7 linked regions of the Homo sapiens genome follow. The protein of the gene in region 2 interacts with the protein of the main gene of each other region in a biochemical or structural test. Each region holds a gene or a part of one and is shown on either strand. Other genes may lie near its edges. The genes, in order: SHROOM4, PDZRN4, MTNR1A, PLCB2, MAP4, CYTIP and DLG5.

Region 1 (3,500 bases), on a different chromosome or scaffold from region 2:
CTTATTGCCTCCCATTTTCTACTTCAGAAGTATTTAGAGATGCAAAACTTGCAAATATCCCCAGGCTTTGCTTTCAGAGATCTGACTTGTTGGGTTTTTAAAAAGACAAATCCTTTCCCCTTTCTCCATCCTGTCTCTGTTGGAGACCCAGGTCTAAACTGGCTGCTCTTATATCCCGGTTATGACCTATTACCATAACACAAGCTACCACCATCCCCCAGGCTACTTCTGGGAGGACTCCCTAGGTCCTTGCCTACTCACTGCCAGATTACTTCCCCATGGCATCCCTGATGCCATCTTTTGGCCGGTGCATTCAAACCAGAAGTTAATTCCTGTGTTCAGCTGTTGCATACACAGACACTTTTGAAATGACTTAGTATCTGAATTTGCTCAATATATATCCTTGGTAAAAAGGAACTTCAAGGGTGATAGAAGCCTTACACAAAAGACTATGAACTCTACAATTCCTTTTATATGAAATTCTAAAACAGCTATTCTATGGGGGAACAAATTCAGAACACTGCTCGCCAATGGGAGGTGGCACAGAGATTGACTGGAAAAGGGCAGAGGGAACTTGTGGGGTGGTGACAATGTTCTATATCTTGGTAAGAGTTTGAGTTAAACATATGTACCTGTCAGAACTCAACAAATGTATAGCAAGGCTCCTAGACAGCCAATGCACTTAGTATTTGTGCATTTCACTGGAAGTAAATTTTGCCTAAAAATGTTGTAAACAAATATTAAACTTTATTTAATATGTATGCTGAAGTGTGTTTGAAGTATACTGCTGTATTCAACTTATGTTTTCAGCATACAAATCTTGTACATATTTTGTTATATTTGTCCCTGAGATTTTATGAAAGCGCCGAATCCTAGCCACCCAACCACCAGGGATATTTGTCCCTAAGATTTTATGTTTTTAGATGCTATTATAAAGAGTATTATTTTCTTAATGTCAAGTTGAAATTCTTGATTACTAGTCTATAGAAATATAATTGAATTTTGTGTATTGACATTGTATCCTGCAACCTTGCCAAACTCACTTATTAGTTCTAATAGCTTTTTGGTGGATTATAAAACATTTTCTACATACACAATCATGCCATCTCCAAATAGAATTTAGTGTCTTCCTTTCTCCTGTACATGCCCTTTTCTGGGAGAGAGAAGAGCCTTATTGCACTCTCACCTTCAATACAATGTTTGGAGGAAATGGTAAGAGTGGACATTGTAGCTTTTTTCTTAATCTTTGACTATAAAGTTTGATGTTAGCTGTAGGATTTTTTTGTAGGTGCCCTTTAATTGAGGAAAATCTCTTTTATTCTTAGTTTACTGAGAGTTTTCATCAGAAGTGGATGTTGTATTTTTTTTCAAATGCTTTTTCTGTATCTGTTGAGATGATCATATAGTTTTTCTCTTTTAGTCTACTGATGTGGTGAATGACATTGATTGATTTTTAAAATAAATAGAAGCCTAGCATTGCCAGGATAAATCCCACTTGGTCATGATGTATTATCCTTTTATATGTTACTAGATTTGCTAATATTTTGTTAAGGATTTTGCCCTTATGTTTATCAGGGATTTTAGTCTATAGTTTTATTATAACATCTTTTTCTGTTTTTTGTTTTTTTTGTTTGTTTGTATCAAGGTAATGCTAGCCTTAAAAAATGAGTTGGGATGTATTCCCTTCTCTTTTATTTTCAGGAAGAGTTTGTATAAAATGTCTTCCTTAAATGTTTGCTTGAATTCATCACTGAAGCCATCTGGGCCTGGAGGTTTTTTGGTAGAAAGCTTTTTAACTACAAATTCAATTTCTTTAATAGATTTGGGGACATTTAGGTCATCTATTTCTCCTTGAGTAAGCTTTAGTAGTTTGTGTCTTTCAAGAAATTTGTCCATTTCATTTACATTTTAAAATTTATGGGGATATAGTTGTTTTCAACTTACTTTAAAATGCACCAGGATTTTAAGATGGATTGGTAGATGGATAGAGGAGTAAATGGATATATGATAAGGCAAATATATCAAAATGTTAATTGTAGAATCTAGGTGCTGGGTATATGGGTGATCACTGTGAACTTCTTTCAACATTTTTGTATGTTTGAATATATTCATAATGTTGAAAAAAAGAGGAGAGGAAATATAAAATAATGGTTTTAAGGGCACCGAAGCTGGAACCAGACTGCCTGGTTTTGAATTTCTTCCCCCGAACTTACAATGCCTAAGCTTTCCCATCTAAAAGCATGGGGGTAGTAACAACACCTACTTCATAAGTTGGTTGTGGGGATTAAGTGATGTAACACATTTAAGACTCAGAGCAGTGACTGCCAGATTGTAATCATCTTATAAGTGAGTTATCATCTCTTAAAGGGACATTTTGGCTTAGCTTGAGAGACTTTTGCTGGAAGAAGGACTCACAGATAGACAGTAGACAAAGGGGGCTGAGATTGGGGGTGAGTGGGGCGGGGGAAGTGAGGAGATGACGGCTGCAGCGGTGTCAGCCCAGGACCAGCAGCTCTATAAGAGATGGAGGTACGATTTGCAGGTTGCAGCAATTGGCAGCAGTAATGCATGCGGGTGAGGCTGTGCCTACACCATGCCTCTATTTTTTGTACTCTGAGGGAGGGATACCTTGGGTTCCTAATGCTTGTTAGACCAGCTAAGCAGGTCTGCTTAGATACTAGGCATTCCGACACGTGGATGGCTGCCTAGGAGACACCACATGCCCATTTCTGCCCATCATCTGAACCTTCCACTCCTACTCCACCCCCCTCAAGAAATGGGAAAAACTTGCAGCATGGGTTAAGATGCCATCGCTCTGATGACTCAGGTACTTGTGGTGGTAGCTATCTGAAGTAGGGCTGAGATCCTGCTCCTAATGCCCCTGGACGAGGTTGGTGAACTAATTGTCTCCTGTTCAGTGCTGTGAAGACTGAAATCAGCATGCACTCACGTCCTTCATACCAGCTTGTTTTTCATTCATTGTCAAATTATTTCACTTACCAATTGTATGGGATAAGTTATAATAGGATCTCCCATTTTACAGCTGAGGAAGCTGAGAAAGCCAAGGCTCAGAGAGGTCACACATCTAGCAAGTGGCAGAGCCAGAATTTGAATAACATGACAGTAACTAGCATCTCAGTGTCTACTGGGCACCAGGTACTATTCTAGATGCTTTACATGTATCAAGTCATTGAGTTCTCAAGCAATATTATTATCGTGATTATACTATTATATAGTTGGGGAAACTGAGATAAAGAGAAGTTGAATGGCTTGCCTGAGGCCGCAAGTGAAAGGCAGGTGTGCGATTTGAATCCATGCTATCAAGCTCCAGAGGCCAAGCTCCTGACTGTGCTACACTGCCTCTCCATAAGCTGATTGCAAAGCCCAGGCCCTCTCTAGTGTGGCCGGATGCCCTCTAGCAGTATCACTTCCACTGGGACAGCAAGTTCCCATCACAATCTCCATTTGCAGCAAGCGGTGGGGATAACTGCCTCTTTGAT
Region 2 (3,500 bases):
CATTTCAAAAAAGGATGATAAATCTCTGTTGAGGAACATTTCTGATGAGGAACTATGATTATATTTTAAATTTGTAATTAATATTTTATATGTAGAGTTTGGAATAAATTATACAATACTTTTAATATTTCTTGGTGTAATATGGCTACCTTGTTCCTGTCATTATCTTTTATATGAAAGAAAAAGAGAAATACCTTTTTTTCTCTTTGTTGTGAAAACCTGGTGAGAACTCTTTGTATGTTTTAACTGTATTGTTGTATTCGGGGGTGATAAAGTGAGCACCTATATGCTAGTAAAATTGGGTTATGTTAATGAAATTTTATGTCCCTGCCATCTGCCATCTCTGTCCTTTTGACATTTTATTAACTGGTTAAGATAATATTACTTTTTGTTGCCAAAAATGGTTAAGTTACTTTTATCAGTGAGTTTATTTCCAATGGATTAGTGAAGCTATAAATAGGAATTTGGAAGGTTTACTTGACTCCACTATTGTTTTTAAAAATTCTGTTCACTCTAGGCTATATAATCACTAGTGCTATCTCTCTGAATACTTATATAAACTATCAGAATGGAGGCAGATTTTCTATATTAAATTTTAAATAAAGTTTTAGCTTTTCATTCATCCTCTGTGCACTAAACAAAGTTGAATTTTTAATGAATCGACATAGAGTAAGAGTGAAGAATATAGAAGACCCAATAGTTTGCTGTTTTGGGAAAAAAGAACACAACATTTATAAATTAGCCGACTACAAAATTTAGAAAAAAAAGAAGAGTTATCTTTTGCCAAAAAAAAAACTTTGATTTATATCTAAAGAGGTCTCTTGTATCAAGATTTTTATTCTTCCAGTTTTGTTGCCGAGAAAGTGCAGACCTACTTTTGCTGTTGCTATCCAGTTCATCTTGACAATTTGTCTAGTGGAAACATTCACATGCTGTAGCTTCTAAAGTTAGAATGTGCACAGTATGATCTAAAGGGCAACATACTTTAAACAGAAGATTGTCCCTATTACTTTCTGCATTATCTCAAAAACATATTAAGTTGTCCAGTTACCAATGGAAAATAAATTCCTACATTTGATATTATTAGAAGAACTGATGGAACTGAATACATATATTGTTACACCCACACAAACACATAGACACAACAGAAATACGTATTGGCAATTTAAAAAATAACTTATTCTAGCTAGATGACAATATTATGTATGCTTCATTAATGTTACATTAGAAAAGAAAAAGAATTTTTTATATTGTCATACAACAATTTGGTTACAAACCTACTGTTTTTTTTAAAGAGGTAATTTTATAAAACTATGGTTGAAAATCAAGTGCATCTAGACACCTACATAGTACTGTTACTAATATATGTCAGATTAACCTTATTTAAACCCTGTAAGATAAAAAGTAAGGAGGTCAACCACAGAAATTCAAATGAAATTTAACTAGCTGCGGTATTATTATTCACTTTCATTTGCATATATTAGCAGTTAATGACTAGAGCTTGAAATTTGTCTCAATGATATAGATTTTTCAATGTGTCTTTTATACCAGGGTACATTGATTTTATGTATATATGCTATAGTTGTAGAATGGATCAATGTGACCACATTTGCAGTTAAGAAATGGGTTAGATGAGGTGCATATTTCTAGAATGTTGTGTGTTAAATAGCATGAAATATTTTAGAAAGAAGATTATTAGAAATAAATTGCTCTTGCTTAGTTGTTCAGTGATGCTATCGGCTTTTTGAGTGAATAGATATTTGTGTGACTTTAATATCTAGTTAAACAAGAAGTGTGTTTTTTCTTGTGCATATGGTGTGTGTTGTAAAAGATCCCTATGTAATCATTAAAGTTAGAAATATTTGATGCTTATCATTATTTTAGTTTCTCTGTCATTATGATATCAATCAACTTTAAGCAGTTTTTAGCTAATTGGAAATTGAGAAGAAATCTATCAATTTAAAATGTGCAGATGCATATTTTAAAACAGATTTTTAAAGTAAAGATAATAATTTATTTTCTGTTTTGTGATCAAAGATTTGTTCATTGAACAAATTTAATGGCTCAATTTTTGAATTTCAAATGGTCATGCTGATTTAAACCTGGTGCAACAAGTAAGTTTGTTAACAGTGTAAAGGGTACAAACTAGTTCATATATTATAAAATTATCCGTATGACTTATGCACAATCTGACACATTACTAAATGCTTTGAATTTACTGATATATAACTGAAATAAAAAATAAAAACAATAAGAGATTCTATGGTTTATATATAGTCAAGATATGCTCAAAAATATTTTCTGTAGCTAATTGCTTGATGCACACATACAAGTTTATGAATTGTTTTTAAAAAATAATAAAATTTTCCAAAGTTATTCACTTGAAGAGGAAGTAGACATGTTAAAGGTTTTGTTCTGTTGGTGGTTAAAAAGATTTTATAAACTCTAATAAATAATATATTAGTTATAATAGTTTTGCCACAGTTCAACAAAGGCTAGTAACACGTATTATTTTTTAATATTTGCATTCTATTGATAAAATTCAAGAATAATAAAAGAATAAAAAATTACTGTCATTAGGTAAACCTATGTCATATTTTTCACATAATATAAGGCAAGTTAATTTTTGGAGTCAGTCTCCACAAGCAACTATGTTAACCAGTTTCTAGCTATTTCCACATCCATATTTGTTAAACTATTTATGCTTGTAAATTTTAAAAAATCAGTTGTGATAGTTGAGTTACACTAGGTGTCAAAATATCACTGGAGACTGAAAAGGCAGAAGATATTGTTGAAGGCATTTTGAAACATCACAGAAATTCACATACACCAAGAATTCACCACAGTATACAGCTGAATAAAAGCATGCTGTTTTTCATTCTTTCAAGAATCAAAGGAATCACAGAAAATCCCTGATCCTATCGAAGGTTGGGCACAATTCTGGAAGAAGGCATGACCATTGCTGTAGTTATCATCATGTTAGGATGCCTAAGTGGTATGTGGGAGGGAGTTGAGAAACAAAGTTCACTGTTGCTTTTAGCATCGATTCCTCTATTCTTTCTTTCTTTCTTCTTCTTCTTCTTTTCCTTGTTTTTTCTGGGTTTTTTTTTTTGGAGACAGGATCTTGCTCTGTCACCTAGGCTGGAATGCAGTGGCATGATCACAGCTCACTGCAGCCTCTACCTCTGGGACTCAAGGTATCCTCCAGCCTAAGCCTCCCAAGTAGCTGGGACTACAGGTGCACCCCACCTCACCTGGCTAATTTTTTAAAAATTTTCTGTAGAGATGGGGTTTCACCATGCTGCCCAGGCTGGTCTTGAACTCCTGGGCTCAAGCGACCTGTCCACCTTGACCTCCTGAAATGCTGGGATTACAGGCGTGAGCCATAGTGCCCAGTCTCCTCTCTTATTTCTATGATACTGATAGCAGGCAATGCAACCATAACTCCAGAGTGGGAAAGGGTGGATAATCATTCATGGCTCTTTGTTTACACTTTCTTC
Region 3 (2,706 bases), on a different chromosome or scaffold from region 2:
GGACTGGAGCTCTGGAGGATGGTCGAATCTCAAGCCAGGAGGAGGTGAGCAGGAGCTGGAGAAGCTGTGAGCACACTGCCGTCACCCACCCCCTGCAGGGCAGCAGATGAGACTCGGAGTGCCGAGCTTGTGGTGGCGTCTGGCACTTGACACAGACATACTGAGGGCAGAGAGCAAGCTACTGCTGCACTTCCGCCTTCAAAATCTCACGCAATTGCCTCTTGTGGGGAACACTAACCCGGAGCGGTGCAAGGAAAAGTCTTTTCAGCTTCGCGAAGTTGACACAATATAAACCCACTGTGCATCGATTAACCCTCGGCCAGGTACTGTTCAAGGTGGAGGGAGAAGATATCTAAGACAGGCAGTGTCCTCACCGAGGTGATAGCTGGGGCTGTGGGAGATGGGGAGAAGTAGAGACATAATCGCGATAAACAGAAAAGCAACGTCGTGCTGCTGTGTCATTCCCAGAAGGGACTCACAGGACTAGTTCTGAGGAAGGTACTCCCAGCAAGCTGACATTTTAGTTGTCTGTTACCTTATTTTATTCATATCTGTGCCATATTTCACTTCCACTTTAAGGTTTTATTCCTGGGAACAAATATTGACTGTGCATTTTATAGTTGGTGCCTTTAATCACCACAAGGCTGATCGCTGTTCGTCTTGTTGCCAGCATACTGACTTAGGTGTTTTCCTCCCCCATCTTCTCTTTAGAATGTTCTAGTTCAAATACGCTTCTTCAGAATTGTGCCTGGAGAGGCTGTAAGCCAGGACGTAGCCACAGGGCCCAGTTTCTGAGTCTCGTATCTGTAGGAGCACAGGAGCTTTCTCAGGGAAATAACATTGAACAACACTCACCAGTTCATAGCATTGGTATAATCCTGACTCTTTCACTAAGTAGTCGTACGACTTCATCCAATTTAACTCTATATTTTTGTTTTCTCATCTTTAAAAAGTAGGAATTATCCAGGGAGATCATTAACCCATCTCTCAATTTTAACATCCTATGATTCTATGATTCTGCCACAGTAAGGATTGGAACTATATTCAACAGAGAAGAAATTCTTACCCATGAACAGACATTATTTTACATTTCAGAATGCATTATTAAGCTTGTTGCATACAGTCCTGGATATCTGTAAAAATGGGTAGATTGTCCATATGTCTGGAGTTACATAGATTTGAGAATGGAATAGATGAACTTATAATGTGTATAATTATAATTAGATGATTTAATGACTCTTATCTGGTGAAGTTCATAAAAGAAAAAAGGAAATTCCCTTTTTCCTTCTCCGCCCAGACACCACACACCCCCCAGGCACACATGAACACTGGTGCTAAAGCTTTATGTGAGCTACCTGACAGCCGCACCTGTGGGGAGTCTGTGGCTTAATTAATTTTCACCAAGATTTGTAAAATGGGATTAATTCAAAGAATCAATGATCTAATTAATGTAATTGCTTGAATTGTAATGCAACATAATTACTATAAAATAAATGAAGCAGGGTATTCGAGCCATGAAAGAAATTTATGACATCATTTGTGATTTCATTTTTAAGCTCTTTTAAAAATAAATCCATATTAGGCCAGTTTGTCATCATGACACTCTGGGAACAAATGTGCTGTTACAATGACAGTTTGATTTGGAACAGAATTTCACATATTATAGATGCTTTTAAAGCATTAAACATTTTGAGCTAAATAATTTATTAAAATACACCTCTTAGGAATTTAAATGTTTCAACGCTAATTGAAAGTGATCTGTGGGAAAATAAATTTGCCTTTGTAACTTTAATTTGGATGAATACAACCAATTTTTAAAGTATTTGCTTTTATGACAATTTATCTGAAATTCCTAAATAAATGGCACAAATTTTGCCTTTCTCTCATCTTGACTGCTATGGGCTGTCTCATTTCAAATATTGGGAAGTGACAGTTTAATGAACTCATTGAGTGTATGAGCAAAAGTCACTGTATTTATTGGGTGTGGTCTAGGACGCAAATATGAGGAAATGTACTCACGAGGGCCACCATCTGGAGACGCAGGGAAGCCTGGCCTACAGGTCAATAGAATAGAAGGCGAAATCTTCTGTCCGTCCACCTGGGGCTCCCTCTGTCCCTGTCCAGCGCACCCCTTTCCTCACAGCTTCTGGTCTGTGCGTGCTCTGGTGCTGCTGCTTACTCTAGTGTAATTTTCTTTTTCTTTTTTTTCTTTTTTTTTTTTGATACGGAGTTTTGCTCTTGTCACCCAGGCTGGAGTGCAATGGCGCGATCTCTGCTCACTGCAACCTCTGCCTCCCAGGTTCAAGCAATTCTCCTGGCTCAGCCTTCCAAGTAGTTGGGATTACAGGTGCCCGCCACCACGCCCAGCGAATTTTTGTATTTTTAGTAGAGACGGGGTGTCACCATGTTGGCCAGGCTGGTCCTGAACTCCTGACTTCAGTTGATCCACCCACCTTGGCCTCCCAAAGTGCTGGGATTACAGGTGTGAGCCACTGCGCCCAACCACTCTAGTGTAATCTTTTTGACTTTTCCTGTCTCTCAATTCCTGTTTCCCCCTGCACCAAATATATGCATTTAATATGTAAACTGAATTGAATTTATTATAATTTAATCTGAGTAAAAAGCAGTATAAAGTGCTTTAAGACCCTTCAAAGGAGGAAGCTCTTACCACTAGGTGGGCAAATGAGCAAAGGCTTCTGGCATTTC
Region 4 (3,527 bases), on a different chromosome or scaffold from region 2:
CCAACCCCCTCACCGACTCCCCTCCACCGACCCCCGCCCCCCGTACTCCCTCTGAACAACAAAGGGCTTCTCGCCAAGCTTACTTCCTCTCCCTGCAGCAAATCTCCAAAATGATGGAGCTGGCCAGAGAGAAACAGGCGGCAGAGCTGAAGGCCCTGAAGGAGACGTCGGAGAAGTACGACTGCCTCCCTCCCACACCTGCTTCGCCTCCCAGCAAGGGCTCAGCCGCACAAAACAGCTCCTTCATGCCTGTCTCTCTGCAGCGACACCAAAGAGATGAAGAAAAAGCTGGAGACAAAGAGACTGGAGCGGATCCAGGGCATGACCAAAGTCACCACAGACAAGATGGCCCAGGAGAGGTGAGCCCTGGAGGGGAGGCCCAGGGCTGGGCAGACCCCACTTCAGGTGGAAAGGGGCCTCTCTACAAATGGATCCTGACTCACTTCCCAAAGATGCATCTGTCCCCTGGCTCTCCAAAAAGCGGATCCCCCCTGTCACCTTTGATCAGAGTGTCCTCCTCAGACAAAACACGGAGGCCAACACTACATGGGCAGAGCTCTGGAGGCAGCCAAGCCTGCAGGGAGGGAGCTGAGGCCTTGGGATTGTAGCCTGTCCACTGTGGTGGCACTGTTTCCCACGGAAGGACAGTGTGTTTTGATGGGGAAATGGTTCCCTCAGAGGGCCCCAGGACTCCCAGTGGCCCCTACATACTCCTTGGGTCCCCACACCTGCCCCCAGCTGGTTCCTGCCCTATGTTGGATTTCTCATTTGCCTACATCCTGCGTAGACTTCATGTTACCCTACTCTCCCTAGGGGTTTTCTCCCTTTTCTAAAACTCCAATTACACCAACAGGTTGAAGAGAGAGATTAACAACTCCCACATCCAGGAAGTAGTGCAGGTGATCAAGCAGGTGTGTAAGGGCTGTGTCCTTCCTAAACACACACACACACACACACACACACACACTCTCTCTCTCTCTCTCTCTCTCTCTCTCTCTCTCTCTCTCTTCACAAGTAGGAAGGGGTGGCCCCAGGCCCTGACTTTGCCCTTAGGAGATGCACTGCCTAGCGCTGTCCATGCAGCTGGGGTGGCAGGGGACATCCTGGGGTTCTGGCCTGTGTATGGAGGTTGGGGTACCAGCCTGAAGGGATCTGTCTCTGGCCAGTTCTCATGTGTGGAAATGATATGGGCTAACTGGCCCATATCAGGGCCAGGGGAGGCTGGGACTGGCGAGGGTCAGGGGATGAAGAGGGAGTGAGGAAGCTTCCTGAGGTGCCAAGGAATAATGGACCTGAAGCTCCCCTAGGGATCATTAACCACAGAACACAGCTGCCACCTACTGGGTCCTGACCTGTGCCAGGCACTCTGCCAGGTGCCTCACATGAGCTGTCTTGTATAATCTTTTACAGTCCAGTGAGACAGGTGCTGCTATCCTTATCTTACAAATTTTAAAAACTACCTAATGTTAAGGAATTTGCCCAAAGTCTTACAACTAGTTAGCTGGGATTACAGCTGGATTCTGACCCAGCTTGCCTGTCTGTGTTGTCCTGATTCTCTGCCATCCACTCCCACCCAGATGACGGAGAACTTGGAGAGGCACCAGGAGAAGCTGGAGGAGAAGCAGGCGGCTTGCCTGGAACAGATACGGGAGATGGAAAAGCAGGTAACAGGTTCACTACTGGGACCCCCAGCAGAACTGAATGGGTTCCGGGTTGTAAAGGGGCCTTGCCCCAGGGAGCTGCCAGTGAGAGGGTAGGGGAAGGGGGCCATCATCCTTCACTGTGGGGTCCCGAGGCCCTTTCAAATGAGGCAGCTCTGCAGATCTCCGCCTGGTTAGGATCCCCTTTCCTGAGAGGCTCCTGATGGGCTCTACCACTCCCCCACCCTGCCTCTCACCCCAGTCTCCTGGGAGCTCCGAACATGGATATTGGGCATCTCCTGTTCCCACTGTCCAGGGAGCGAGGGTGGCCAGCAGGCCCCTCCTGAGCCAGGCAGGGGTCCTTGCTGTCTCCACAGTTCCAGAAGGAGGCGCTGGCAGAGTACGAGGCCAGGATGAAGGGTCTGGAGGCAGAGGTGAAGGAGTCGGTGAGGGCCTGCCTCAGGACCTGCTTTCCCTCCGAGGCCAAGGACAAGCCTGAGAGGGCCTGCGAGTGCCCCCCAGAGCTGTGTGAGCAGGACCCACTCATAGCAAAGGCAGATGCCCAGGAGAGCCGCCTCTGATGCCCCCATCCCACTGGGACATTTAGCAAGGAGGTTCAGCCCCTTCTCTGGGATGTGGTTCTATTCCCCCAGGAAAAAGGAGCCCCAGCCTTCTGAGGCTGTGGGAACCTGTGGCTGCCTTGGACGCTGCAGCCCCCTCCTCAACGGCCAGGCCAGAGTCTGAGACAGGACCCAGGCACCCTCACGGCAGGGCCTCTCTGGGGCCTAGAAGTCTTCTCAAGCTGACTTCCTACCTCCCCCTCCATCTCTAGATAAGTGTCATATATTTGTTGAGGGCAAAAGACTATGGACTGGAAGGCAGAAAGTGGGATCCTGGCCCCACTCTGCCTTTCCTATTGAGCAACCAGCTCTGGGCTCAGTTTCCTCACCTGGAGGGTTGGACCCACTCACCTCCACTCTAGCCCCGAACCCTCCTGCCCCAGGCTTCCAGGCCCCATCAGGCCTGCCCTGAGTTGGCCTTGTCCACTCCTTGAGGCAGATCCTGGCACTACCTCACAGCTCCCTGGGGACGGCCACTCCCTGGCTGAGGGCCCTCCCCTCCCCTCTGCCTGTCCGGAACGGGAGGCTGAAATGGAAAAGCTGCCTTGGCCCTGCTTGGCTGAGTCACAAGGGGCAGTGGGCTCTTGGGTGCTGTTCCACCCTGACCCTGGCTCACCCCTCTTCCTAGGCCTGGGGGCAGGCAGTTCCTACCATGTACCCCTCTCAGGCTGCCTGCCTGACAAGGTCAGCATCATTTGCTCTCCTGAATTTATGAGGTTTATTTATTTTTCTCTTTCCTACTCCTATTAAAGAACCTCGTCCCAGTGTTTCCTGCTTAAGCCTGGTCTCTATTCTACAGGTAGAAAATGGGGGCAGGGTAGTGGAGTGCCCCTGAAATGAAACGGGCTGGGGAAAAAAAAATCTCTTGGGAGCTGAACCCAGGGTGAGGTCCTTTCCAGAGTCCAGTGAAATGGCCCTGCCTCTGGACTTGAAGAGGATTCATTTCCCCTTCTGCTGGCCCTGATGCCACAATCACTGGAAAATTATGTCACCCCCTCTTCGCCCCCACACAGATGTGGCCCTTCATTGTCTCCACTCTCGGGGTTGGAGCAGAAGAGCTGAGTGCAAAGATGTCCCCTATTTTAGGGGGAGTTCCAAACTTTTAGGCAATCTAGGCCCCTTTAGGAAGACAGAGTGGTTGGATGCTCAGGACCCTATGGCAGCTATGGTTGACCTCAAAACTTGCTGTGGAGGGGCTTGTGGGCAGCCACTCACTGCACCGATGACATGATCCCAAATCCCAAATAGGGACAGGCACTGGCTTAGG
Region 5 (4,020 bases), on a different chromosome or scaffold from region 2:
AATGTAAGATGGTAGATGGTCCCATGTGACTAAATTGTAGGGAGACCCTACATGGAAAGCTGCTGATGATTATGGTGGGTGATAGGACTGAGTCTTGTCAGTCAGCCTTGATATTACACGTAAGAGTTTGGATTTACAAAAAAAAAAAAAAAGAAAAAAGAAAAAGACATCTAGGCATTGGGGTCCCTTTAAAGATCAGGTGGAATGTTTTCCTGATGTTCAGGATTCTTCCTGCCTGCCTCCCTCCTTGCAGAAGAAAAGATAGGTAGGTATAAGTAGTAGGTAGGTAAAGGTATGTATAAGCAGGTATAATTCAAAAGGTATATGAAGTACAGCGAAGTCATTGTGTTAGATAAAAGCAGAAACTACAAAACTGTAAGGTTTTGCTTATTTTGTCACGCTCTGCTTCTGTTTTTGGTGTTCTGTGGCTCTTTTCGCCGATCCTTTGTCTCAGCCTCATTTGTAAGTGACTTGTTTTTTCCATTTCTCATTTTTTTTTCCATCTATTAAAGTGAGGGGATTGGATCCTAGATCAGTTCAACTGGTGTAAGCCTTTAGAGCCAGGCATGGTGGCTCATGCCTGTAATCCCAGCACTTTGGGAGGCCAAGATGGGTGGATCACTTGAGGCCAGGAGTTTGAGACCAGTCTGGCCAACATGATGAAACCTCGTCTCTACTGAAGATACAAAAATTAGCCAGGCATGGTGGTGTGCATGCCTGCAATCGCAGCTACTCAGGAGGCTGAGTTAGGAGAATCACTTGAACCCAGGAGGCGGAGGTTGTAGTGAGCTGAGATCATGCCACTGCATTCTCCAGCCTGGGCAACAGGCCAAGACCCTGTCTCAAAAAAAAAAAAAATGCCTTTAGAATGTGGTTAGAAATAATTTTTGGATTGGTATAGATTAACTCTGAATGTTTTCCTGTGTTAGAGGAAGGAAGTGGGATAAATGTAAAGTTTAAAAAAAATGCTCCTTTTTCAAAATTTTGAGGGGTTAGGTATTAAGAATCTTTTAAAGTTTTACTCATTTAAAAAATTTAGATAAAATGGAAGATTCATTCTTAAGGTTGGTGATATCAGAAATGTAAGTGCTGTGTCATTGTCATTTCTTATTTTGGCCTACATAACCGTAACCAGACTTCAGACATCATGCTGCCTGTATCACATGGCTAACAGTGGGAGGTATCTGGTGTGTTCTTCCTGGAGAAATAGATTGAAATTCATTTGGACAGAAATGTTGAAGGCAGGTGCCTGATCCAAAATGCATTTAGTCAGGACTGAACACAAGCTGCCTGGATAGTTCCTGTAAGTAAGCAAGGTAGCCTTTTAACTTTGTGATGCAAGGTTTTATGTATGTGAGTATGTGTGTGCAAGTGTATACAGTATTTTTATATCCAGAGAACAGGGCTCCCTTAAATGGGGGGTGGGGGGGACTCTGGTAACTACATGAAAGTAAAATATAACTTCTTTAAACCTATATCAGTGTGTTCTTTCATGTAGGAATGTAGCTGTGTGATGGCCTCAGCTATTCTAGTAATCAAGGGCTCTCTGCTGTTGCTAATCCTATGATGAACAGGACAAATGGTGGTTACGAACAGAACCCTGTCAAGCCTGGAAATTCCATCAGTTTGTAATAGCACAGCTGTTGTCCTTGAACTGTGTAGGGAGGAACCTAGGGGTGGACAGTTAATATATTCTTCAGGGGGGTTGTAGTTTATTGCTCAGGATAGTCAAGATCTTCCTCAGTTGTCTGTTGCTATCTGCAAGTCTGGTTTGGAGGAGAAGCAGGAGAAATTCAGATTTGTCTGAGGAATCATATGTGTCTGTGAACTGTGTAAGTTGGTAGTTGATTCCTGTAGACATCCTTGCTAAAGATTTATTTTTAAGTAAAATATCATTTTGCTTGAAAGTATAAATCAAGGTTTTGTGGTTAAATAAATTAAAAACAGCACAGCTGCCAGACAAAGTTCAGCTTGATGTATAACAGGCCTCTGAAAGAAGTTCAGTAAGAAACAAATCTGGGTAATAAAGTTAATTAGTAACTAAAAACCTGCTAGGCATACTAAAAAAAAATCTGATGTTGAATATTAAATTATTATGAAGCAGGCTATACCTGTATCCATCAAGATTATAAATGATCTCCCACACTGGCGACGTGGGGTTCCTTTCAAGCCTGAGGAATGAGCACTATATTTTGGCCACAGCATTCTCACTAATGTCCTAGGATAGCAGCTTAGTGTTGGCTTTAGAATTCTCTGTCATTTAAATGTCATGCAAAAACAAACGTATAAAAGAAAACATTAACCCAGATATCTTTATGGTTCCTTGTCTTGTCCATAACCGCCCCCGCCCCCACCCACCCAAAAAGGACAGGCTATCAGTTATAGAGAAAATATAAGTGAGCATTATAAGCAGTATCCTACCTTTAGTAATAATTATTTAAAGTTTATTAAATGGGTTGTTTGGAACTCAAAATGATTTGCCTCAAAGTAGCCTAGGTCACTGAGAAGAAAGTTTATTTCTTTCTGCTGAAACTGACAGGAGGCGATATTTTGAAAGATAGCAAGCTTGTCTTTGGCATGGTATTAACTCCCTTTCTTTTGCCTCCTAGGGCTCCTGGGCCTGTATACCCTTTCCCTACTTTGATACCATATCTATATCTGCTTTATTCCCTGAAAGTTCCCATGTTGCCATAATATTTTTCTTCCTTTTTCACACCAGAACCAAGAACTCAGACATCTTCAATAGAACCATCTCTGGGATGAACAATGGTCTTTCCAGGGATGTACATTTTCTTACCCACTTTTAAATTAAGAAATAGGATTCTATACTTTTAAAAAGAGAATGCTGGCTACTGCAAATGAATGTCGGTAGAAATTTGGCTAATGTGACACAGTAAAATGAAGGTTTCCTAACACAGTGGTTAGGAAAAGTGAGTATGATGGTGGGAATCAGGCTTCTGTTCTTGCTTTTTTTTTTTGAGTCAGGGTTTCACTCTGTTGCCCACGCCGGAGTGCAGTGGTGCAATAGTGGCTCACTGCAGCCTCAACCTCCTGGGCTCAATCAGTCCTCCCACCTCAGCCTCCTGAGTAGCAGGGACTACAGGCATGTGCCACCATGCCTGGCTAATTTTTACATGTTTTTGTAGAGATGGGGTTTTGCCATTTTGCCCAAGCTCTGTTCTAGCTTTTCATGAGTTTTTTCCCTGCATTTTAGCTCCCATAGTAGCACCTTTCAAGGGGTGAATAGAAGAGGACAGAGACAGCAACAGGCCATTGGTAAACCAGATTGCCAATTTCTCATCAGACAGAATGAGCACAGACCCCGAGTGAGTGGCTCTAGATGCGAATGACCTAAAATTTTCAGGAGGACTTCATGGAGCTTAAAAGGTTCTTCAGAACTTCTGTGTAATTAAGTTAGATATTAACACTGTTTAATCTGTATAGACCTGTAAAATATTTTTAGTACAGTAATTAATTCCAGAGTTTGTGAACTATCCAAAGTAAAGCATACAACAAAGTACTGTGGCCTCATCATATATCCTTATTTCCTGTTTATGAGCACCTAGCTCTTAATAGTGAGATTGTAGTCAAGAGAGTATTTTATCATCATGCCATGTAGTTGCCTCTTGCCTTAGTTTACCTATTTTAAAAAACCCGGCTCACTAATAGTTTCACTTCAGGCATGTCATCAGAATGAAAGATCAGATATACAAAGTGCTGTGCTTGAAAACTGTGTGTTCCCTTAGTGCCTGGTTAGATAATACAGGGCTTATTTTCTGGCAGAGTGGTGTTGAGTCTCCTTTGATGTTAGCCAGAACTGGGTGGAGTTTCTTAAGCTCCAGTCAGATTGGCTCAAGCAGGGCACCATGCAGTGGTGAATTTGTTTTCAGTCCCTCCCTTTGCCAAAAAGCTTTTTTTTTTTTTTTTAATAAACCTCAACCCAATTATAAATGAGAATACTTGATATATGAAATAATATGAAATGATAGTTGTTCATATTCACACTGAGGGTCTTAGGGG
Region 6 (4,242 bases), on a different chromosome or scaffold from region 2:
TCTCTCTCTGTCTTCCTAATACACACACACACACACACACACACACACACACACCCCACATATACCTGTATACATATCTGTACATATCTATAAATATAGATTTTACGTGAATATCTTTATAATTGATGTATTCTTTAGTTGCCAAGGTATTTACCACTCCCTTTTGCCTTACACATTTATGTTACTTACCTGGCTTCTGAAAACGTATGTGTTTTTAATTCCTGATTTAGACCGTTATATGTTTGTGGTGATATCACTTTGTCCATGTCAAAATTCAATTCCAGTATAATGAGTCATGCTGTGATAGAGTTTTTAAAATCTATAATTGGCTTCAACTTTTGAAGCACTATTAATTCAGATTTTACTATTTATATTTGGCAATTTCTACTTGAGTTGAATTCATCTTCACTTCCAGTACACACACATTTCATTTTAGTTCAAAGATTTGCTAACTCTTTCAAATGCTAGTATTGATCTTCAGAGATTTTAAAAAGCACATTTGACTTTTTGTGCCATATAAAACTTCTCTTTTTGACTTTTGTTTCGATTCTTCCTTTTACTTGCCTCCCCTACTCCTCCACTGAAACCAGTTCTCTCAAAACTACCTGCCCCCAACCTCAGCCAAAGGAAAAAAAAAAAAAGCATCTGTGATCTTGAGTACTTGGTGATGGTGCCCTTGACCCATATGCACATGCAGGGACCAACAGGCAATGTTCTTGGTGCCACCTTGGTTTGCCTGTTACCTTCCTGCCCACTCCTTTCCTCCCCTGGGACCACTTGCTGATGCTGCCGCAAAGTCTCGTCTAAGAAATGGCAACATTGTGCCCTAAATGTGCTGGCTTTCCCTTCCCATTGTACTTTGTAAAGATCATGGGTAATTTTTGTAAGGACAAAGTAGTAAAAGGACAACCAGAAGAATGCTGAATGGTTACAACCTCAGTGGCAGATATAATGTCTTTTTGATGAACATTAATGATCTAGGGTATACTTCAGGGAAAGTACAGTATTACAAGGACTTCGAGAGAGAACATTATGACCGGCACCTGTAATTCTTGCCCATATTCACAAGAACTGAATGTCCTCGTGTGCTGACTTCTGCATTGCATTGCTAATGTTAAGTAAGAGAATGGATGGGAAACAAATGGTAGCACTTGGGGACATTTTTCTTTCTTCTCTAAAGAAAAAAATGGCAAATGGTGGTGTGAATGCAACTTGCCACAGAACATAAAAGCGTAAGAATTCTGGCTGTTTGAGGTGAAAAAATAAGTTGATTTTTCTTTAAATTGTAAAAATTAGCTCCAGGTTCTCTCAGGAGCTTAAAGAAAAAAAGCTTTGAGAAATGGGAGTGAATAGCAAGATAGGGTTTGTGTAACAAGTTCCTCAAACCACAGAGGTCACATGGGCTCTTTCTGCTTTGCTACTTTTGATTACTTGTCACAGTTGTACTTTTAGCTTCCCCCATCCTGCAAGGCCACTCAACCATGTGCTAGCTGGAGTGATCTTTATTCACAATGTCTTTACAAAGGCTCCTGCAACACAGCAGCAATGGCAATTTGGCGGACTTCTGCGCTGGGCCAGCGTATAGCTCTTACTCCACACTCACCGGCAGCCTTACGATGGACGATAATAGAAGGATTCAAATGCTAGCAGACACGGTGGCTACTCTGCCTCGGGGACGAAAGCAGGTATGATTGCTATTTTGTACCCTTTAGAGTGTTCACATTCTCTTGAGGGCAGAGTGATATGTTTGTCTGACTTCATACTAATGGTGATATTTTAGAGGCTTTGGAATTACTGGCTGATTATTATGGGTGAAGGAGGTGAGATGCTCAGGGAGCTAGGTGAACCAGTCCAAAGATTTGAGACCACAATCAAACTTTTTTTTCAAGGCAAAAATTAAGATTGTTTTTCTTATTTGAAGAAGTGCTCAGGTAAAATAAACATCATTAAGCATAAAAAACTTGAAGATGGTTTATATAGATACAACCAGTATGAGAATTAATTCTCTTTTCCCCATTGTGTCTCCACTGATTCTTTCCCTTCCATCCTTACTTGCAGTCCTTGATGGTCATTTCAGTTCATAATCAAATAAGAAATACTTTTTCTGAGGACAAATTTTGTTGACTAATTATCTTCAGCTCTGGGTTGCTGGCACATACCTCAGGCTATTGGAAAGTAAGATTTTTTTTTTTTGGATAGATGAGTGCCAGATTGAATATCAGCTCACCACTTAGTGTCTGTGGGATCTTGAGCAAGCCACTTGCCTCTCTAAGCTTCAGTTTTGTTTTTTCTAAAATGGAGTTAATAATAGAACCACCCTTATTGGGTTCTTATGTTGGTTAAATAAGGAACTGTGCAGTGCCTAACACAGTGACTGGCATTCAGTGTGTGTTTATTAAATGCTAGATTATGCCATTTTAATATTTTTATTGCAAAGTTTGTCTCTAGGGATGAAAACTCATTTGGAAAAATCTATGTCTAACTGAATTTATTTTGATTTTTTCGTTCTTCAATTTCTAACATGTAAAAATTTTTTTTTAACCATAATACCTCTTCAGGATTTTTTTTAAACAACTTGCTCTAAATCCCCAGGTACATATTTGAATTTCGATGTAGCATTTCTACAGAAAATATTTAGAATTGCCCTAGAGCAAGAATTTTTGCGCTTAAGTCTTGCATGTACAATCATGTGCTTCTCGTAAGCCTTCTAAATTCAGGATTAGAGAGGTATGGCATAGTGGGAGAGACATGATCTTTTTTCAGTGATGTATAATAGCTGATTCCTTGGTATTTTTCGGAGTGAAGATAAGGGCACAATTTTCCATGATTTGGATTATTGATTGTTCTCAATCTAAAGTGCTTTTATGATACAAAGTTTAATGTAATGATGAACATTTTATCAATCTACAACCTGTCTGAAGATAAAGCAACATGAGAAATGCTGACATCTTTTTTCAGTTTTCAGATATAAAGCAGTCAGATTTTCTTTATATTTGCCATGACACTATCACACCAACTATGGTTCACTTGATTAGGCTATGATTTTTTTTTTTTTTTTTGCTGGAGACTGTGGGTACTTTTTCAATCAGGGTGGGAACTTTCCACCCTCTATGTCCTCCATACCTGCAACCTTACTCATTTGATCTACTCTCTAGCCCATGCAATTCAATGCAACAGATGGTTTCTGAGCACCTACAAGGAGACAGACATCATGCTAAGTGTAGGAGGTAAAAAGACGAGAAGGGAATGTTTCCTACCCATATACTGTTTACAATTCAGTAAGCAGAAAGAATGGGTTTTCTGCAAAGTAAAACAACATGAATACTCTCATCGAAGTGAAACATCTGTAAATATAGCCTTGGAAATAGATATTCGAGATATTGAAGGGTATTCCAGATATTGAAGGGTATTCCAGAGCAAGGGAGAAATTGAAGCTGAGGCATAGATCCTGGTGCCTGGAGGACTTTTTTGTGTAACAACACAATATTAAGTGTGTCAGGAGAACCTGGTTAGTGTGTAGGAGGTGAGAGGAGATCTCAGCGCTGGGCTGCTTTACAGAACACTTGGACAACTTCCCCTGAAAAAGCCGGCACGAGGGCCACTGAACGTGTTTGAGAAGTAGAGGATTTCAGGAACCTTATTGTAGAAATGTAGTGGATTAGTGAGTAGAGACTAGTGGTGAGGGAGGAACTTTTGCAGTAGTTGGAGAAAGAGGAAATGGGGGAACAGAAAGGAGACTGAAAGGCTTTAATATGAAAGGGACTGAAGACGGAGGAGTCACATCTGGTTTTAAGCCAGAGTGAAGATAGCGTGAACTGAAAGAAGGCAATCAGTAGGAGAGGCTGATTATCAGAGGAGGATAAAGAGAGGGATTTTGGCATATGAAATACACGTGTGTGTGTGTGTGTGTGTGTGTGTGTGTGTGTGTATGTGCATATATACATGTACACATATGCACACAGGCACACACACATCCCCATACTAATTAATTTATGCAGATGTTCTCATCTTTTCTAGGTCTTCTCATTCCCCTTCTCTCAAATTCTTTCATGTGGTAGACTTTCCATATTCAAACAGCTTTTTCTTACTGTTGTGAGAATTGCTTTAAAAAATAGCAAAACAAAACTTCTTGTACATGATAGTTCTGATTCCGTACAATTATCATCAATGAGACTTGATGCAAGTTTATCCCAACATTTCACAATCTTCCAAATGGATGTTCATTTCCTTTAACTGGTTTTT
Region 7 (3,500 bases), on a different chromosome or scaffold from region 2:
GAGAGGCTGTCTCCTCCTGAAATGGGGTGTGGAAACAGATGGCTGTGGTCCCCCTGACCAGCAGGGGCCCATGGTAGCCAGGAGTTGTGGCCCCGGGGGTGGATTCTCACTCAAAGTGTTTGGCTCCCTGTCCAGGAGCAGATGCTGTACACCTGTCTGTATCTGCCCCTGAGCTGTGGGTTGAAGGGCAGAAAAGAAGGGGAGGCATGCCCTGCAGTGCTGCGCCACAAGCTCAGCAGGAGAGATGGGATGCACAGGCAGAGGAAAAGAGACAGGATGCTCACAGCTTCCTGAGGTCAGATGCCTTTGGAGAGGGCCCCTGAGCTGAGGACAGGTGGAGGGGAGAGGACAGGTGGATGTCATGGGTCCAGGCTTCTAATGTGTCTGCTCTGCTCAGGGCACAGGGTGCAGGGCTATGTGACCTGGTCCCCATTTATAGCTCAGATCTAGTTGCCACAGGAGTGGGGGTGGCTCTGGGTGGCTTCGTACTGCTCCTTATCCCTCCTGTCCTCCGCCTCCAGCTCACACCTGGACCCTGCCGGTACCCACTCCACTCTCCAGGGCAGTGGCACCACCACCCCGGAGCATCCATCTGTCATCGACCCACTGATGGAGCAGGACGAGGGGCCTAGCACCCCCCCAGCCAAGCAGAGCAGCTCCAGGTCAGCAGACGTTGCTGTGAGCCTTCCCTGTGTCCGCTTCGGCTGGGTGGGGCTGAGCACATTCTCCAAGTGGCGTGGGCACTGGGCAGCTGGCCTCATGTGCTGCAGGCCGCACACCAGGTCTTCAGGAGTTGGGCCGGGAGCACGGCATTCCTTTTTTCCTTCCCTACTCTCTCTTTTCCTTTCTCTTTTTCTCCTGTTTTCTATTGACTTGTTTTTTCCCCTGCATCTTCTCTTTCTCTTCTCCTTTTCTTGTTCACTCGCTTTCTGAGTCTGTCTTTGGACACATTCCCACAGTCATCACCCGGCCAGGCCCTGGGCTCTGGCCACCCACAGCAGTGCTTCCCCCAATGAGGTGGCAGACCAGTGCCGGGCACGTGCAGCAGAGTCAGGGTGCTGGGAGGGCACTGCCGGCCGCCGCAGAGCAGGCAGGAAGATCACTGGAGTGTGGCAGGGGAGGTGGCAGCTGGATTAAAATGTTCAGGACAGGCAAGAGCCAAGAGTGGGCATAAAGAGAAGTCCAGGCCGAGGGAGCAGCAGAGTTCAGGAGGAGGAAGGAGCTCCATGGGAGCTGCACAGCGTCCAGCCTGGCCTGGGGCTGCAGGGAGGGCCATCCAGGCCATGGTGTGACATGATCACTCTGCCGTCCTGGAGGAGCTGTGTCTCCAGCACTGAGAGGCCTTCACCAAGCCCTGGGCAGCATCTCACAGAATGAGGCCAGCTCTGCATTCTCTATACCAGAGTCTGTCACATTGGAACTTACCTGCTGCAAGGTTTTCCTCCCGGGCTGGCATCTCCCCTGAAGCCCCCTGTATCTGTTTCCATCGCTGTCCCATCTCACTCCCTCCATGTGTTCAGCAGCTTACTTTCAGCTTCCCTTCCTTGATTGTAAGTGCCTTGATGGCAAGGGGCCCCTCTTCACAAGTTAGCAGTTGCTGGTCTATAGAAGCTTCTTCGTAGACATTTGCTGAATACATTGCTGTGCTCTGGACAGTGAGGCCAACTTTACCTTTCCTTAGGAAGTACTAAGTTAGGAAAATGAGTGTGATCCACATGGGAGGGAGGCCATCCTGATCTTTAAGGCATGAGATTGATAGCCGGGCCTGGGAGCAGGGGCACTGATTTACGGTTTTGACTGCCCCCGCTAACTGGCTTTGGACCTGGGGTCTTGCCTTCATCTCCAGTGCACCTTAGCATCCTGTCCCGAACGCCGAGCCAGTAGAACTAGAGGCCACCTCTCAGCTCCCTGTGGTTCTGAGACCCCAAGAAGCAGGCAGAAAGCGGTTAGGGCATTGGCCACTGCTTTGTCTTTTTGTGCCTCCTCTTTGTGCACAGTTGAGGAACTTTGTTTTTTTCCTGAAAGGATTGCGGGAGATGCCAACAAGAAGACCCTGGAGCCACGCGTTGTCTTCATCAAAAAGTCCCAGCTGGAGCTTGGGGTGCACTTGTGTGGTGGGAACCTGCATGGGGTGTTTGTGGCCGAGGTGGAGGATGACAGTCCTGCCAAGGGTCCTGACGGCCTCGTGCCAGGGGACCTCATCCTGGAGGTGAGTTCTGAGCTGCTGAGCAGGCCAGGCCTCCATCTACCTGCACAGTGGGCTTGCTGCCATCTCAGGTGGCACCAAAGACGGAGGAGTACAGCCTCTCATCTGGTGAGCCAGTCAGGGCTGACTTTTGTTGTTGTTGTTGAGGCAGAGTCTTGCTCTGTCGCCCAGGCTGGAGTGCACTGGCACAATCTCAGCTCACTGCAACCTTCACTTCCCAGGTTCAAGCGATTCTCCTGCCTCAGCCTTCCGAGTAGCTGGGACTACAGGCATGTGCCACGATACCCGGCTAATTTTTATATTTTCAGTAGAGACCAGTTTCACCATGTTGCCCAGGCTGGTCTCAAACTCCTGACCTCAAGTGATCTGCCCGCCTCGGCCTTCCAAACTGCTGTGATTATAGGCATGAGCTACCGTGTCCAGCCTCAGGATTGATTTTTTTTTTTTTTTGAGACAGAGTTTTGCCCTTGTTGCCCAGGCTGGAGTGCAGTGGTGCAATCTCAACTCACCACAACCTCCGCCTCCCAGGTTCAAGCGATTCTCCTGCCTCAGCCTCCTGAGTAGCTGAGATTACAGGCATGCGCCAACACGCCCAGCTAATTTATTTTTGTATTTTTTGTAGAGACGGGGTTTCATCATGTTGGCCAGGCTGGTCTCAAACTCCTGACCTCAGGTGATCCACCCGCCTCGGCCTCCCAAAGTACAGGGATTACAGGCGTGAGCCACTGTGCCTGGCCAGGGTTGATTTTTAATCCCTGTAAACCCAGAATCCTGCCAAGCCCTTCTGAGGAGGTCCCTGTGAAGCCAGGCAGGCCATTGAGGGAACCTGAGGGCAGAGCCTTGGCTCAGGCCCTGGGCATCAGGGGGTGCTCGCCCTCAGGTGATGTAGCTGCAGGACTCTGTTCTGATGAGAGAGGATGGTCTTTCTCTGTGGTCTCCTGCCTCATGGGGGAGATGGTTTGTGAGAATATAAAGGCACAAGTTGGGCTGGGTTTGGTGGCTCACACCTGTGAATTTTAGGAGGCCAAGGTGGGAGAATTAGTTGAGCCCAAGAGTTCAAGACCGGCCTGGGCAACATAGTGAGACCCTGTCTTTACAGAAAACAAAACAAAAAAATTAGCCAGGTGTGGTGGAGTGTGCCTGTTGTCCCAGCTATTCTGGAGGCTGAGGTGGGAGGATCACTTGAGCCTAAGAGGTATAGGCTACTGTGAGCTGTGATTGCACCACTGCACTCAGTCTGTGTGACAGAGGGAGACCCTGTTTCAGAAAATAAATAAATAAAAGCACAGGCAAC

The links.
Region 1: the proteins of PDZRN4 (region 2) and SHROOM4 interact in a test that uses a peptide from one of them, tested with the Homo sapiens proteins (one large-scale study listed by IntAct).
Region 3: the proteins of PDZRN4 (region 2) and MTNR1A interact in a test that uses a peptide from one of them, tested with the Homo sapiens proteins (one large-scale study listed by IntAct).
Region 4: the proteins of PDZRN4 (region 2) and PLCB2 interact in a test that uses a peptide from one of them, tested with the Homo sapiens proteins (one large-scale study listed by IntAct).
Region 5: the proteins of PDZRN4 (region 2) and MAP4 interact in a test that uses a peptide from one of them, tested with the Homo sapiens proteins (one large-scale study listed by IntAct).
Region 6: the proteins of PDZRN4 (region 2) and CYTIP interact in a test that uses a peptide from one of them, tested with the Homo sapiens proteins (one large-scale study listed by IntAct).
Region 7: the proteins of PDZRN4 (region 2) and DLG5 interact in a test that uses a peptide from one of them, tested with the Homo sapiens proteins (one large-scale study listed by IntAct).

What each region holds. Positions count from the first base shown.
Region 1 is NC_000023.11:50,629,195-50,632,694, reverse strand, and holds part of SHROOM4 (protein Shroom4), read left to right. Parts: intron 1-3,500. UniProt on the Homo sapiens protein: Probable regulator of cytoskeletal architecture that plays an important role in development. May regulate cellular and cytoskeletal architecture by modulating the spatial distribution of myosin II.
Region 2 is NC_000012.12:41,194,820-41,198,319, forward strand, and holds part of PDZRN4 (PDZ domain-containing RING finger protein 4), read left to right. Parts: intron 1-3,500.
Region 3 is NC_000004.12:186,535,862-186,538,567, reverse strand, and holds part of MTNR1A (melatonin receptor type 1A), read left to right. Parts: exon of another isoform or gene 1-323; intron 324-2,706.
Region 4 is NC_000015.10:40,287,409-40,290,935, reverse strand, and holds the end of PLCB2 (1-phosphatidylinositol 4,5-bisphosphate phosphodiesterase beta-2), read left to right. Parts: intron 1-98; coding exon 99-175; intron 176-263; coding exon 264-359; intron 360-853; coding exon 854-911; intron 912-1,577; coding exon 1,578-1,664; intron 1,665-1,996; coding exon of another isoform or gene 1,997-2,017; coding exon 2,018-2,221; 3' UTR 2,222-3,027; downstream 3,028-3,527. UniProt on the Homo sapiens protein: The production of the second messenger molecules diacylglycerol (DAG) and inositol 1,4,5-trisphosphate (IP3) is mediated by activated phosphatidylinositol-specific phospholipase C enzymes.
Region 5 is NC_000003.12:48,013,617-48,017,636, reverse strand, and holds the start of MAP4 (microtubule-associated protein 4), read left to right. Parts: upstream 1-1,220; 5' UTR 1,221-1,303; exon of another isoform or gene 1,304-1,316; intron 1,317-4,020. UniProt on the Homo sapiens protein: Non-neuronal microtubule-associated protein. Promotes microtubule assembly.
Region 6 is NC_000002.12:157,441,290-157,445,531, reverse strand, and holds the start of CYTIP (cytohesin-interacting protein), read left to right. Parts: upstream 1-1,442; 5' UTR 1,443-1,511; coding exon 1,512-1,685; intron 1,686-4,242. UniProt on the Homo sapiens protein: By its binding to cytohesin-1 (CYTH1), it modifies activation of ARFs by CYTH1 and its precise function may be to sequester CYTH1 in the cytoplasm.
Region 7 is NC_000010.11:77,808,256-77,811,755, reverse strand, and holds part of DLG5 (disks large homolog 5), read left to right. Parts: intron 1-135; coding exon of another isoform or gene 136-172; exon of another isoform or gene 173-287; intron 288-521; coding exon 522-662; intron 663-2,025; coding exon 2,026-2,209; intron 2,210-3,500. UniProt on the Homo sapiens protein: Acts as a regulator of the Hippo signaling pathway.